Linked DNA regions of Homo sapiens: region 2 is linked to region 1. The links come from fine-mapping of genetic effects on gene expression. Tissue or cell type: nasal epithelium. Region 1 holds a variant in brackets; the other region holds the start of a gene. All regions are shown on one strand. Distances are from middle to middle.

Evidence for each region. PIP is the estimated chance that this variant, and not a neighbour inherited with it, causes the effect.
Region 2: CMIP starts here. The variant in region 1 is fine-mapped to the expression of CMIP in nasal epithelium (TOPMed, PIP above 0.99).

Annotation. Positions count from the first base shown.
Region 1 is chr16:81,685,740-81,693,843 of GRCh38, forward strand. CMIP (c-Maf inducing protein) reads left to right here. Exons shown (of 21, transcript NM_198390.3): 11 at 6,036-6,101; 12 at 7,419-7,445; 13 at 7,700-7,748. Among named protein-coding and RNA genes, the nearest start is that of MIR6504, 78 kb to the left of the region's middle. RefSeq lists enhancers at 5-744, 745-1,482, 5,361-6,000. The variant C/T (reference allele first, on the strand shown) is at 3,069.
Region 2 is chr16:81,439,733-81,447,836 of GRCh38, forward strand. It overlaps CMIP (c-Maf inducing protein), which reads left to right and starts at 5,076. Exons shown (of 21, transcript NM_198390.3): 1 at 5,076-5,809. The coding sequence starts at 5,510. RefSeq lists enhancers at 3,917-4,449, 6,614-7,379, 7,380-8,104 and silencers at 4,659-4,758, 4,869-5,218, 5,289-5,338, 5,769-6,068.

The DNA of each region.
Region 1 (8,104 bases):
TCTTTTTAGAGATGGGATCTCTTTATGTTGCCCAAGCCAGTCTCGAACTCCTGGCCTCAAGCAATCCTCCCGCCTCAGCCTCCCAAAGTGCTGGGATTACAGGCGTGAGCCACCATGTGCCCACCAGTGTCCTTGTGATATAGGGAGATCGTCTTCCTTCTCAGGTGTGAGCCGGGCCACCCTCCTTGTGAGACATGGTTATTGAGAGGGTGGAGCACAGACACTGGGGCCAGGCTCACAGGTTCAGATCCCAGCTCTCACCAGCTGTGTGGCCTGGGGCCAGGGCAGCCCATCACTGTGTCTCCATTTTCCTGCCTATAAAATGGGGGTGCCAAGAGCACCCGCCCAGCCAAGTTGCTGGGAGAGTTGCATGGGCTGACGCATGGGAGCCCTTGGAGAGCACCTGGCACGCAGCAGGCGCTGCAGACGAGGTTTGCTGTCAACTGCATTTCCATTTTCTGGAAACCATGAGTCAGGGACAGGTGGGAGGAAAGGAGGAAGGTGATTCTTCTGGAGGGAAGACAAGCTAGCTGCAAAAACAGATGACCCCTCAGAAGGGAGCATGTGAATACGGGGGCATAAAGGGGTCTCCATGTCCTGACATGCACACGACAGGCCTCAGGCTCCTGCAGCTCTGAGAACCCCAGGCTGCACCTGGGCCTTCCGCACTCAAGCACTGCAGTCCAGAGGACCTGCTGTCAGTCCTCATCTGCCTCCCAGGCGTGGAGTTCAGCTTCCTCACCGGCACCCTCTGCCCTCACATACCGCTCTGGAGATTAAGTGAGCAAGTCGGGTAGGCAGTGAGTAAGCGGTCGCTGGCATCACTGTCAGGACTTATCTCAGGCAACAGGCTTTCCTGGTCATTCTTTTCTCCGCGTCTGGCATCGGAGCCTTTCCTCAGAAGCTTCCAGGGTATGATTGGGGTTCTGAAGGCTGCCACTCTATCGTGGGCTTATTTGGAGGAAGGTGGGGCAGGAAAAGCCCTCACTCAGGGGTTATCTAAACCGCCTGTTGTCGATGGGAGTGAACATTTGTACTTGGTGAAAAAAACATCTCCTCCCGTTTCTATGTAAGGCACAGTTAGACACACAGCACGCAAACCGATACACAGTGTATCTGTGGTGAGTCGTATGTGGGTAGGGGTCCCGGGACCACCCCTCTGCCCAGCCCGGGTCTGAGCACCCCCTGGCCTCTCCCGTGGGTGGTGCCCAGGTGTCAGCGGGGCATCTCTCTGCAGCGCCTCCCCAACACAGACCACTGGACAAGGGTTCAGATCCCACCTCCTGCCCCAGTGCAAGCCAGGATCGAAGTCAGCATCCCACTCGATCTTGGCACCTGGTGGCACTTGCTAGTCCCCCAGATGGAGACTCAACATCCCTTCTGCTCTGAAGCCGGTCACAGGCCCCAGGCTCTGTCATTGGCCCGGTCCCAGTGTGCACTGGGCCTTGTGTTCAGCAGTCCCCTCCCAAGCACCAGCCATCCACCCAGCCCGGGGCCCAGCATGGGGGATGCAGAGATGAGACCTGGGCCCCTCCTGGGGTGGTCCGAGGCAAGATGGTCAGAAGCTGGGGAACACCAGGGACAGCTCTGTGATTCGGATGGGGACTGCTCCAGTGGCCACCCCTCACTTTATGTGTCACGGTTTTAAGCTCTGGGCCCTCAGAGGTGCCCAGGCCTGGCTTAGGCGAGAACTGACTACCTCTGGGTTTGTTTTTCCGCGGAGTCCCTATAGCCAGAGAGATCCGGAACCCAGGTGGGGGAACTGGTTATAAACACAGTGCAGGTGCTGGGGCCGAGAGGACGGGTCATGGTCTTTGAAGCACCTGAGGTCAGATCTCAGCCACTTGCTGGTGACTTGTGGGAAATCACAAACAGCTCTGAGCCTCATTTTCCTCGTCTGTAAAATGGGGGTTGTCATGACTGCAGTCTCTGGGGGCCGTGTGTGAGTGCTCTGCTGTGTGATACAAGCCCATCTGTACTCAGACTGAGACGCCGGCGAGTTCTCTGGACGCTCCCAGCTTTTGGGGGCAAGAGTTGGCCAAAAAACTCCCTCTTTATGAAGCTGTGCTGGTAGGTGGTCGGGAAGCAGCCTGTTGGGCCTCAGGAAACTCCCGAAGCTATTGCTTCCCTGCTGTGGCCTGGCTGTATCACAGCCCTGTGGTCACGGTCAGTGAATTGCCATACTGCTCCTTGTCCGTAATTTGGACTCAGCACACAGGGTCCTCTGGGTAGATCCCATGAGCGAACACAAGCAGTGCCCTTACTTCAAGCCCCGGTGCGCAGGCAGCGCAGAGCGAATTGCATCTGCGTTATCAGCAGTGCTAATACTGTTCGGTTGTGGGACAGTGGTCTTCCCAGGGTCGGATGGGGGTGACACCCTGGTGCCTGGCTTCACCACACACCATGGTGTGATAGAGCCTGAAATACCTGGTTCTGAGTCCAGCTTTACCCCTTCCTAGGCTGTGTAGATGACTCGGAGTGGGTAACTGACCTCTCCCGCTGTCTCTGCACACAGGAAGGAGGCTCTTTCATGAAAGGGTTAAGTGAAGTCAGGTGAACAGCACGGTGCTTCCCGCAGCTGCTCTCACTGAGGTTTAGCCCTCCTTCCTTACCCAGGCAGGCGTTGGCTTTTGCTAAGATCACAGCCGTGGCCTTTCAGGGCTGGTGAGAGCCAAGGCTCTGCTGTCACAGAAGCCTGGATTTGACTCCTCATATGCCACAGCTGTGTGACCTTAAACCTCTGAGCCTCCAGTTCGTCATCTGTTAAGTGGGGTTAGTCACACTGACTTTATTGTGCTCTTGTAAAGAGTAAATGAACTAAGGTATAGCCCTTAGCATCCTGCAGTGTGTGTGGAAAGTCTCCGTGACATCGGAGCTGCTGTTGTTATTGTCATTGTTATTACCGTCATTAGCATCAACTCTGTTTTTTTTTAATATACTTTAAGTTCTAGGGTACATGTGCACAATGTGCAGGTTTGTTACATATGTATACATGTACCATGTTGATGTGCTGCACCCATTAACTCATCATTTACATTAGATATATCTCCTAATGCTATCCCTCCCTC[C/T]TCCCCCAACCCCACAACAGGCCCCGGTGTGTGATGTTCCCCACCCCGTGGCCAAGTGTTCTCATTTTTCAGTTCCCACCTATGAGTGAGAACATGCGGTGTTCGTTTTCTGTCCTTGCGATAGTTTGCTCAGAATGATGGTTTCCAGCTTCATCCATGTCCCTACAGAGGACATGAACTCATCCTTTTTTATGGCTGCATAGTATTCCATGGTGTATATGTGCCACATCTTCTTAATCCAGTCTGTCATTGATGGACATTTTGGTTGGTTCCAAGTCTTTGCTATTGTGAATAGTGCTGCAATCAATATACATGTGCATGTGTCTTTATAGCAGCGTGATTTATAATCCTTTGGGTATATACCCAGTAATGGGATGGCTGGGTCAAATGGTATTTCTAGTTCTAGATCCTCAAGGCATCTCCACACTGTCTTCCACAATGGTTGAACTAGTTTACAGTCCCACCAACAGTGTAAAAGTGTTCCTATTTCTCCACATCCTCTCCAGCACCTGTTGTTTCCTGACTTTTTAATGATCGCCATTCTAACTGGTGTGAGATGGTATCTCATTGTGGTTTTCATTTGCATTTCTCTGATGGCCAGTGATGATGAGCATTTTTTCATGTGTCTGTTGGCTGCATAAATGTCTTCTTTTGAGAAGTGTCTGTTCATATCCTTCGCCCACTTTTTGATGGGGTTGATTTTTTCTTGTAAATTTGTTTAAGTTCTTTGTAGATTCTGGATATTAGCCCTTTGTCAGATGGGTAGATTGTAAAAATTTTCTCCCATTCTGTAGGTTTCCTTTTCACTCTGATGGTGGTTTCTTTTGCTGTGCAGAAGCTCTTTAGTTTAATTAGATCCCATTTGTCAATTTTGGCTTTTGTTGCCATTGCTTTTGGTATTTTAGTCATGAAGTCCTTGCCCATGTTTATGTCCTGAAAGGTATTGCCTAGGTTTTCTTCTAGGGCTATTATGGTTTTAGGTCTAACATTTAAGTCTTTAATCCATCTTGAATTAATTTTTGCATAAGGTGTAAGGAAGGGATCCAGTTTCAGCTTTCTACATATGGCTAGCCAGTTTTCCCAGCACCATTTATCAAATAGGGAATCCTTTCCCCATTTCTTGTTTTTATCAGGTTTGTCAAAGATCAGGTGGTTGTAGATGTGTGGTATTATTTCTGAGGGCCCTGTTCTGTTCCATTGGTCTGTATCTCTGTTTTGGTACCAGTACCATGCTGTTTTGGTTACTGTAGCCTTGTAGTAGAGTTTGAAGTCAGGTAGCGTGATGCCTCTAGCTTTGTTCTTTTGGCTTAGGATTGTCTTGGCAATGTGGGCTCTTTTTTGGTTCCATATGAACTTTAAAGTAGTTTTTTCCAATTCTGTGAAGAAAGTCATTGGTAGGTTGATGGGGATGGCATTGAATCTATAAATTACCTTGGGCAGTATGGCCATTTTCACGATATTGATTCTTCCTATCCATGAGCATGGAATGTTCTTCCATTTCTTTGTGTCCTCTTTTATTTCATTGAGCAGTGGTTTGTAGTTCTCCTTGAAGAGGTCCTTCACTTCCCTTGTAAGTTGGATTCCTGGGTATTTAGCATCAACTCTTAGAAAAGAAGAAAAGCTGTTGTCTGAAAGCAAAAATAGAAGTATCCACCAAGGCCAGGCATGGTGCCTCACACCTGTAATCCTAGCACTTTGAGTTATTTATTTTTTTGAGTCTGAGTCTCGCTCTGTTGTCCAGGCTAGAGTGCAGTGGGGTGATCTCAGCTCACTGCGGCCTCCGCCTCCCAGGTTCTAGCAATTATCCTGCCTCAGCCTCCTGAGCAGCTGGGATTACAGGCGTGAGCCACCACACCTGGCCTATCCCAGCACTTTGGGAGGCTGAGGCAGGCAGATCACCTGAGGCCAGGAGTTCAAGACCAGCATGGCCAACATGGCAAAACCCCATCCCTACTAGAAATACAAAAAATTAGCTGGGCATAGTGGCGCACGCCTATAATCCCAGCTGCTCGGAAGGCTGAGGCACGAGAATCACTTGAACCCAGGAGGTGGAGGTTGCAGTGAGCTGAGATCGTGCCATTGCACTCCAGCCTGGGCAACAGAGTAGGACTGTGTCTCAAATAATAATAATAAATTTTAGAAAAAGAAAAAAAAGGGATCCAACAAATCAGGAGGTTTGACCCAAACTACAAACAAACAGCTTAGAATGTTTGTTGTTTATGATTCTGTCTATAGAATTTTCCCTCAGTTCTGATCACAGAAAGGTGAGAATGGCCCCAGGGTCCCAGCCTAAGCCCCCTACATTAGTTTGCTAGGACTGCTATAAAGTACCATCAACCTCATAGCTTACTCAACAAACATGTATTTCTCTCAGTTCGGGAAGGCACAACCCTGAAATCAAGGTGTGGGCAGGGCTGGTTTCTCTGGAGGCCTCTCTCCTGGCTTGCAGATGGCTGCCTTCTCGCTGAGTCCTGGCTGGTCTTTGCTCTGCGTGTCCGTGTTTCCTCTTCTTCTAAGGACATCCGTCTACAGCCTCATTGTAACCTAATCACCTCTTTAAAGGTTGTGTCTCCCAGTACAGTCACATTCTGAAGTACTGGGGTGCAGAGCTTCAGTATATGAATGGGGGGCAAAGTTCAGCCTAAAACACCCCCTAATGGTCCCAAAGAGGGCATGAACAATGATCACGTAGCCTTGGTTCAAAGGGCATTGTGAAGTCTGGGGAATAGACAGCTCACCCCCTCGGGTGCCATGAGGAAGTCTCTGCACAGGCCCAGTTGTGAGTCCTTGAGGCCACGCTGAGAACATTGACTTGCTCATCCTGGAGGTGGAAGTGGGTGGAGAAGTCAGTGCCACTGACTACCTGCCAGGCTCTCACCCCATCTTTTGGCCCATCTGGGACCAAAAACAGTGCCATAAACCTTCCTTGTCCCAACCAAAGCTGACTGTCACCCTCTCTCATTCTAGGTCAGACTATGATGACTGGAGACCGTCTCTGGCCAGTTTGCTTCAACCCATTCCATTCCCCAAAGAGTAAGTCCCGTGTGCATCCCCGGAGCCCTCCCACCTGTGAGACAAACCTCAGTTGTCCACCAAGGCCTTAGTGGGGGGCCAGTCATGTTATGGGGAAGCGAAGTCACAGCGGGAAGACCCTGGAGACGTCGGTACCAGCTCAGCCACGTCCTCAGCTGTGGGACCCCTGGGGAGGCACATCTTCCCTCAGAAAAATGGGGAACTCAGGAGAACAGGGACATTGTAGGAGCTGCTTGACTGCATTGTCACAAGGATTCATGAGCTAAGAATGCAAACAGAGCCCTCCCCATGGCTCCTGGCAGGCCGTGCAGTTATCGTCTTTTATTATGCACCAGATGGGAACCGTAATACCTGCCGCTCCTCTTCCGAGGGCGATAGTAAGAATCAAAAGATAATGCGCGTAGCATTGCTCGCTGTGCCGTACTGAGATGCTGGAAGCGCTCTAATTACGCCCGGTACAACGCTCAGCTCAGGCTCTGCAGCAAACCTGGCCAGAAACAGACCCTCTGCCTCTCTCTTGCCGGCCCCTAGCACCATATTGAATTGATCACTGGAAACTAGAGAGAACGCTGTCTGGTGGATAATGGCCTGAAGAGAAGGCTTTGTCAAAATAACCAGGCCCTGAAATGCCTCCAGGTCTCTTTCAAGAGGTTGGAAGGAGCAAGCCTCGGGAGGCAGCTGGGGCTCTCGAAGGAGCCGATTACCAAGCGTGTTTAGGAAATGCTGCCTCTGTAAGGGCACATTACACGCAGTAATTGCCCCATGTGCTGGCCTGGCCAGTCCCCGAGGGTCCCCAGTACTTGAGGCCGGAGAAATCCACCTCCTAAGAGGCGCTCAGTCTCAGCAGAGTCGTGACGTCATTGGCCTCAGTCCCCGTCCCCATAGGCCTGGGCGCTCTTGGCTGTGGCAACTGTCTTAGAAGAATGGTCCCCCATGGCCGCTGATGTGTGCAGTAATGAGTGCCGCCCGCCTTAATCGTGGAACAATTAATGAACACACCTGGGTCTCCGGAGCCCACATGCACCCACACATGCTCAGGCAGCAGCTTAGCCCCTCTTATTCACAGGTGTGGGCACAGGGAACTTTCGGGAATGGGGGGCCCAGTGTGTTCATGTTGCTCTGATCTGCCGCCTCCTCAAAGAAGGCCTTTGTTTTGGAGCTTTGAGTGGGGACAAAATGTTGGCATTTCACTCACATTCCTCTTCATTCTTTGAATCAGACATAAAGTCTAGACGTCCCCAGAGGTTAATCTTGGGAACATTGTGCTGTTTCCGACGCTTCTGTTAACCGCCGTGTTTTCCCCTGTTTTTGTTGCAGAGCTCTCGCACATGAGAAGTTCACCAAGTGAGTGTCTGGGCACCGCCCTCATTCCATTCTGGCACGCACGGCCTCTGTCCTGAGGTCTTCCCTCCGTGGCCCATGCATTCTGGGAGGCAGTGGTGGCTCCTCTTGGCAGTTCTCTTGAGACACGTGTCCCTGATCCACCGCCTTGCCCAGCTCCCTGGCCCGTTCTTCCTTGACACCATCCCCTCCCCTTCCCACACCTCCCACTCAGTTCCAGACCCCGGCAGTAACTCCGGCCGCCTCGTCTCTTCCAGGGAACTGAAGTACGTGATTCAGAGGTTCGCCGAAGACCCCAGGCAAGAGGTGAGGCCTTTGTTTCTGCATCTCAGGCCGGCTGTCTGGGGATGGCAGGATGCACGAGGGCCCCTTAGAGGCCTTCTGAAGCTTGTCACCAACAGGCATTCAGAACAGCTTTCAGAGACCCATTGCCTGTGTATAAACACATCCCCGCCTGGTGCAGAGCCCAGCCTGTGATGTCAGTGTTTTACTGTAAACGCCGGCTCACCGGGGGTGGTTTTCCACTGGCTGGTGGTTTCTGCCCGCAGCCGAGGCCTTGATTTCGGGCTGGGCTGGCATGGCAGCTCTCAACCAGCTCTGAGGCAGCATTTTGATCCTGTCTGGTTCTGCTATTATGTGAATCACTGGGCAGAGCAAGGAAT
Region 2 (8,104 bases), 250 kb before region 1:
TCTGTAATGGCTCATGACAGCTGATTGTTAATTTTTCAGAAATTTTGCAAGCTGGTTGTCAAACAGCCAGTAAAAAAAATTAAGTTATGTAAAGTTACAAGTAAATAATATTTTTAAAAGGTAATACAACTCATCACTTCCTAATTATTTTACTACATTTTGCCGGTATCTCTCTTCTTGAAGTTATTTATGTCGATTGTAGCGGTCGCCAAACTTTTTCTGTAAAGGGGCCAGAGAGTGAATATTTTAGGCTTTGCAGTCCATGGCTGAATCTGGCCCCTTGCTGGTGTATTGTATCTGTGTGGTGGAAACTCTGCCGTGGGGTGCATGTCTTCCTAACTCCATGTCCAAGGACACATGTTGGTAGCTTGTATAATAATTGGCCATGGTGGTTGTATTTGCACCAGGGAAATTGTCAAACTTTATAGATCAGGCTTTCCTTTTTTCAGCAGGCTGACTATTGAACACGACCCTGGATACAGTGGTGAGCAAAACCAGAATGAACCCTGCCCGCTTGGAGGGTACAGTGCAGTGCATTGGGGTTTGTGCACCATTTCATGGTGGGGTGGGGCAAGGAGAGAGAGCTGTGCAGAGGCTGGAGTGGATCTCCACTGGAGACTGCTGGTTGTTAAACAGCCAGTTAAAAAAAAGATTAAGTTATGTAAAGTTACAATTAAATGAATAATATTTTTTAAAAGGTAATACAACTCATCGTTTCCTAATTATTTTAGTACATTTTGCCGGTATCTCTCTTCTTGAAGTTATTTATGTCTATTGTAAGGGTTGCCAAACTTTTTCTGAAAAGGGGCCAGAGAGTGAATATTTTAGGCTTTGGAGTCCATGGGCTGAATCTGGCCCCTTGACTATAGTTGCTGACCCCCCATGACAATAGTTGCTGAGCTCCCATGAGGGCAGCATTTTGTGTGCTATGGATCTGTAGTACCCAACACCGTCCCCGGCCCTCAAATAGGTGCTAATAAACAGATGTTTAATGGAATCAAATAAAAGAAAATGAATGAAGCAGTGTCACGTAGCTCAGGGGTGAGGACATTGACATCGCAGCGAGATCCAGCCATTCAACCGAAAATCACTATGCATTTACTTTGCCCGCTTCATTCATTCTTTCTTTTATTTAATTCCGTTAAACACCTGTTTATTAGCACCTATTTGAGGGCTGGGGACGGTGCTGGGTGCTACAGATCCATAGCACATAAAATGCTGCCCTCATGGGAGCAGGGGGAACATCCACTTACAGGTGTGGCTGCTGGAAGGCGCCTCAGCTCAACCTCTCCTAGGCTGCCCCTCAGCTCCACTGCTCTCCTCCCCAACAGGTACTTTGCCACCTCATCAAATTCCTTAATGGCAGCCTGGGTAGCGGGTGTGTCTTTCCCTTCTGAGTTAGCTACAGGGGACACCTCAGAGAACTCGAGTTGAGACTGTGCCCATGAAGGCACTTTACTGTTCAGTTTGGCATCCCAGCTCCTAGCATTGAGTTGATCGAGTGGGTCCTCCACCAGTGTGGCCCGGGGTGACCCCACAGTGGGCTGTTGAACGAAAGCGGTAGTTCAGGTGAGGGCACACGTCATCCTTTGGAACCTGGCTCAAACAAGGAGACACCGCCAGCAAAGAATGCAGAAAATGACAGGTTTGTCTGGTGAACTGGCCTCTGGTTAGTGAACGAGCCTGCGAGAGCCCAAGGGGAGTGAAGGGTGCGTGAACCGCCGTGCCCTTCCTGCTACTCCGTAAGCTTCTCAAGTTCAGTGTTGGAAGGGGAGGCTCTTAGGGGCTCGGACCATTCTTTGGAGGGTCTGGAGTTCCAGGGCATTGAGCACAACTCGGGGACATGGTCCATCCACGGGAGCTCGACGGGCTCATGTTTCCTATAATTTGGGGAGCTCCAGGGATGGGGCTCTGATGGAATCTGATGGCTGGATTCAGATTCCTTTCTAGGTTGGGAGCCTGGGATAGTGGAAGGTGGAGGGGCTCTGCAATGAGTTAGCCAAATCCCAGTCTAGGAGGCTGTGGACTCAACTGTCACACTGTCACAGACTGAGTACTAACGCCATCCCAGCTCATCCCCCGCAACTTACTGACCCAGTCCTGTGGCTGGACCTTTGCTAAGCACCAAGGAGTATGTTTTTGACAATCAATCCCTGTGTATTTGCTGCACCCCAGCTTTGTCCAGGCACTGAGCTAGTGCTGTTGCCAGACAGGCGCTTCTGGCTTCTGCCCTCAGGAACTTTCTTTGCCGTGTCTTGGGGGCTCCATTTCACTGATTTGAAACTATATTCAAGAAATACTGCTATTTAAAGAGGACACTGATTGAATTCAATACTTTCTTCCTGAATGCCTGCTCAGGACAACATTACAAAGACAGACATTTGTAATGTCCTCCTAAATTCCCAGAGGAGTGGGAAGCACATGGAATTTGAGGTCGAACAGAATCTGAGGTTCAAACCTCGGCTGGATCCTGATAGTTGTCTGACCCTGTCTGAGCCTCAACTTCCTCACTTAAGATGGGGATGGTAATAGTTCCTACCTCCTAGGCTGGTGGGGAGGAATAAACGAGAACAAATACATAAGGCCTCCAGCATGGTATCTGGTGCTTGGGTACCGGTCATTATTATCACGGTATGTCCTACTTAATGTTTACAAATCAACCACTGTACTGGGCTGCATGGAGGATGTCTGGAATGGTCCTGGAATATATCAGGGATTTGCATCCTGCTAAATCTCCTCCTTCTACTGGAGTTTTGTGCCCTGTATGGGTAGGGGCGTGTCCACAGATGTCCCCGAAGTGGACAGCAGCTGCTTTGCTTGCCACTGGGCCACTCCACCCAGTGACTTTGTGCTAGCCCTTGTTGCTTCCTTCTGTGGGGGGTAGGTGAGCATGAAAGTCTCCTCACTGGCCTCCTTGCCTCTAGGTTTCTCCTCTGCAATGCTCATCTGTGCCACACTGCAGCCTTTTGAAGAAGCCATGTACAAGTCACTCCTTTGCATGGCCCATGTGGTGTCTCCCCACTGCTCTAGTCCCTGGGTTTGCATTTCAGGGTGCTGCTTGCTCACCGCCTACATCTCTGCTCCACCTCCTCCAGGGACCTTGCACCCCATGGCAAGTGAGTTCAGTTTCCTGAACAAGCTGAGCATCCTCCCATCTCTTTGCCTTGGTAGGAGCCAGTTCGTCTTCTTGGAGCACCTATCCCCTTCTTTACTTGATTCCTAAAGAACTCTTAGAGTACCCTGGTCCCCCACACTGGGTTAGACATCCCCCTTTCTGTTCCTGGAGCACCAAGCACAATGTCTGTTACTGTTCTGGACTCTGACCTCCATGCTTTGTGGTTGAGGATGAGGACAGCACCTATGTCATAGGGTGTGAGAAGAGAATGATGTGTGCGTACAAAATTCTTAGCACATAGGAAGCCTCTGGCCACTGTGGTTATTATAGTCATTACCATTAATACCCTAGTGCCTGGCCTGTGACCAGCATACAGCAGGAGCTCAATGAAAATATTTGAACAAAGGATCTAATCCCACCCGCTTAATGGACTGGGGGGTTTCTTGGCCCCAACCACCCCCCAACACCCACATATCTAGGGCTTGCCCCTTCATGCTTGGTGGTTTTCTCAAGGCTGTTCAAGCTCAAAACTGGAAGGAAATGGCAGCAAATTGTGGGGAGCTAAGGAATTTCTAACTTTCTAATCTAATTGTGCCTCCCCAAGGAGGCATCTCCTGGGCAGGCTGGATGTGAGTCTTCTTTCCTTGGTGAGGGATGCAGCCTGGGACCTGCCTTTCATCCCCTGCCTGAAACCCTGGCCAGGCTCGGGGAGAGGGTCCTCTGGGGAGCACCTTCATGCTGCCTGTTCTTGGGAGAGGGGGGGTGAATAATTTCCACCAACGGCACAGATGCTGTGGATATTCCGCAGTGTTCACGACGCAGTTCAACACACGCTGCACACATTCATGTGTTCACTACAGAGGCGCCTTCACTTAAAAAGGCAAAAATCTAGGGTTTTAACGTTATTAGCTGCAGGAGCACGTGGAGATAAGAAAACCTGGCTGAGGAGCTGAGCATTTGCTAGGTGGCCTTAGGTGCCGGCTGCTTGTGATGGCAGAAAGGGAGCTTTTTGCATCCAGGCTGCAGTTCCTGATACCCTGGGTCACAAGAGAATCGAATATGGTTCTCTCGTGGGCTGGTGCTGGGCCTGTGAACTCAGATAAAATGACCAGGTGGGGTCCCAGGGAAGGTGAAGTAGGGGGAGCTGCTGGGGTGCGCACAAGAGGGGTGGCTGTGTAGGTTGGGGGGTGCTTTAAGTGGGTTCCTAGAAGAGGCTCTGTCTCCCTGGGCAGAAGAAAGAAGGGGGATGGGCGGACCGTCCCCTCTCTCCAGAAGGTTTGAGGACCCCCAAGGCCAAAGCCAGCAGACGTCAAAGGCCAGGAGTTCGAGGCCGGCTGGGTCCCGCAGTGGGAGACAGGGCAGGGTGGGCTCATCCTCCGGATCACCGCGGGGACACTTTCAGTCGGGAAGGCGTCCCCGTCCCACGGCCCCATCTGGCCAGCCCGCTGGACAGCCTGGACAGCGGAGGGGGCGTCAGGGGTCGAGGGTTCCAGTCCCCGTCCTTCCACCCAGCCCCCGGCCCTCGGGTATCCTTCTTTACCCGTCCGAGTCCGGCCCGGGGGCGGCGGGGGTGGGTGAGGCGCGGGCCCCCAGGCTCCGGCAGCCTGGCTGGGCTCCCGCCCGGGCACCCGCGGGGGCGCGGCTGGCGTGACGTCACGCGCCCCGCCCCCGCGCCCCGCCCCCTCCCCACATTCCAGGCGGGGCGGGCCGGGACCCCGCGGGGCTCGCCCGCCCCAGCCCCCTCCCCAGGGGCTGCCCCTCCCGTCGGGCCGCGCCTCCCCGTCGTGGGCCGCGACCCCGCCCGGACCGCGGACTCCGCCCGCGAGAGGCCGAAGCCGCCGCGGCCGCCGCCGTTGCCGCCATTGACGTCAGAGGGGCGGGCACATGACCCTGCGGGGACCAATCGCGCGGGCGCCCCGGGCTCCGGGAGCCCGGCGCGCGGCCCGCCCCGCCCGCGGCCACTCTCGCCCGGACGGCCGCGCGGACACACGCTCTGTACACACGCGCGCGGCGGCGCGGGGCCCCGAGACACGCCCGCCCCCACCCCGCCGCCCCCACCCCGGCGCCCGCCCTCCGCGCCTGGCCCCGGCCCGCCCTCGGCCTCCCCCGCCCCTCCCCGTCGCCCGCCGAGCCCGGTCAGCCGCCGCGAGCATGCACCCGACGAGCTAGGAGGAAGCCCGGAGCCCCGCAGGAAGCGCCGAGGCCGGCCCAGCCCGCCGCACGCGCCGCCCCCCGCGGGCAGCGCCCCCTCCCCTGCGGGCGCCCCCAGCCCCACACCCCCCCACCTTCCCGGGGGGTGGGGGGGTGCGGGCCGCCGGATCCGGGGGCCCCGCCGCCCCAGCAGCCCAGGACAGCCCCCTCTCCCCGCCCCCAGCCCCCTCCCCCGGCGCGGCCATGGATGTGACCAGCAGCTCGGGCGGCGGCGGCGACCCCCGGCAGATCGAGGAGACCAAGCCGCTGCTGGGGGGCGACGTGTCGGCCCCCGAAGGCACGAAGATGGGCGCCGTGCCCTGCCGCCGGGCTCTTCTGCTTTGCAACGGGATGAGGTACAAACTGCTGCAGGAGGGCGACATTCAGGTCTGTGTCATCCGGCACCCGCGGACCTTTCTCAGCAAGATCCTCACCTCGAAATTCCTGAGGCGCTGGGAGCCGCACCACCTAACGCTGGCCGACAACAGCCTGGCGTCCGCCACGGTGAGTGGCTCTGCGCGGCTGCACCCCCGCCTCTCCTCGGGGCCCGAGATGCGCCCTCCCTGGCTGCCCCCTGGCGCTGCACCTGGAGCCCAGGGCCTGGGGGGCGGTGGGGGGTGCCGGGGGAACGGGGAGAACCAGGGCGCCTCGCTCCTGGCCTGCTCGCGGGGCTCGATTTTGGAGTCTGAAGCCCAAACCAGCCGACCGGGCTCAGGAGAGACCCTTAAAATGCTGGAGACTCGGCCCACCGCCAGGCTGGGTGCCTGGGGACCTTCTGCCCCCAGCTCTTGTGTTTCTGGTGGCTGGGACTCGAGGATGGACCCGACGCTGGGCCCTGATGGTGGTGGGGGTTCTCTCTGGAAGCCCCTGGCCCATCTGGATCTGAGGGGTGGGGGAGGGGAAAACAAAATACCACCCCTCAGATTTAAAAAAAAAAACAAACAACACAACAAAACCTCCAAACCCCCAAACCCAAAGAATTTCCAGAAGCCAGTTTCTCTGTTTGGTTTACCCGTCCTTTATTCTCTTTCCTGCCAGGGCTGGCAGGCAGAACGGGGTGCTTCCCTTTCTGAAAATCTCATTCGCACATTGAGAGGTTGGAAGTGGAGGGGGAGGGGGCAGTGGTCCTGGAATATCTCAGGACCCAGCGGTGGTCGAGTTCTAGCCTAGAAGCTGCTTGGTGGAGCCCTGGTCCGGCATTGTCTGTAGAGTGTGTGTATACGTGTGTGTTTTGTTGCTGGAGGTTTAATTTTGTTATTGTTTTTAAATACATGGGTAGGACTGGGTCAGCTGGATGAGTCGGAGAGGAAAAACCATTGATCTGTTTCTGAAATCAGATCTGCAAATGGTGGCCTTCTTCGTACGTGGAGAAAGACAGCTGTGGTGGGGTCGAGGGGAGAGTGGGGGTGGCGGGTAGGAGCCTGAACAGGATGCTTTGTGTTTTGAAACAAGGACAGTTTCAAATACCGGCTGTGGCTTGGGCCTGAGGCTTGCCGTGGGGGTCCCATCCTCATTGGGGGTGTAGCTTGTCTTCCCCAGAATGCACACTCCTCCCTGGGGCCACCGTGATCCTGTTTACTAAGCGCAGTGGGAGGGGGCCGAATCCACTGCCTGCCCACACCTGTGCCAAGAAAACCCAGCCAGGAAATAGGGTGTCGCTTACATGGCATGTCACAAACGTGTAGCGTGTGTAGACATTTCCCTGGCATCCATGTTCCCTTGGCGGTGTGTCACAGGCCATGACACATGCCCCAAGGAATGGGGAGGGGGGAAAAGTTAGCTGAAGAATCCTACTCTTTGAACCAGTCCCCCACCCCCCACCCCAGAGCGTTGCAGCCCTCGAGGACTTTTATTCTTAATTTGGGGTCCGACATGCTTAGAGCACCTATTTTCTCTTTCCTGTGGGCACGTTGGTGCAATATCTGCAAAGACTCCTTTTTCAGGGAGGATTGCTGGTCGCGGGGAGGCGGCCCAGTCCCCGGTCAGGCTGGTGCATGTTCTCAAGCCCGTCCCGCGCCACAGGCCGCAGCATTTGGCTTTCCAATGGATGGAGGCGGGAGAGAGCCTCCGAAAATTTGCCAGTACGGAGTGTTTCTGATGTGGGGAGGAACTGGTGACCGCGGTGCCCCCTGCCTGGATTCTGGAGACCCCAGATCTGGCTTCAGAATTTTCACCTGGCTCAGGGGGACTTTATTGGGCTTTTTTTTTTTTTTTCCTCTTACACTCCACAAAATGAAGGGTTGTTGGTGGTGGGGTAGGAAAATGGTTAGAAGGAACAGTGACCTGCCATGGGAAGGCCAGGAGGAGCCCCTTCTCCCTCTGGGAGAAGCCAGGAGTGAGTGTCCCGCTGCTACCGTCCTGTTTCCGGAAAGCCAGCTCTCGAGGCTAATGCCTCCCCACTTACCTCCGATTGCTCAGGAGGTATATCTGAGAGAAAGAGGGAAGGAAGAAAGACCTGAATAGCCAGAGGCCCCTCGCTCACCTTGGCCAGCCCAGGTAGGTGGCACCATCGGTAGTGTGGGCCTTTCCGGAAAGCACCTGTCTAGTACTGGGGACTGAGGCTTATCCATGGAGCAAGATTCTCTTGGCAGAGCCATGCTCTGGTGTTAGGAAATGTGGCAAGAGGAACTATAAGGAAGTGTTTGATGGACTGGCATAATCCCCTTTCCGCTGCCTTTCGTCACCAAGCACTACAGGCAGGGGGTGTCCTTAAGTCTTACCCTTGCCCTCTGGTGGGCTCCAGGGGGCCTTGCCTCAGGGCCTGTGAGCCTGGAGGTGGGGCTGTGAGGGCTGGCCTGG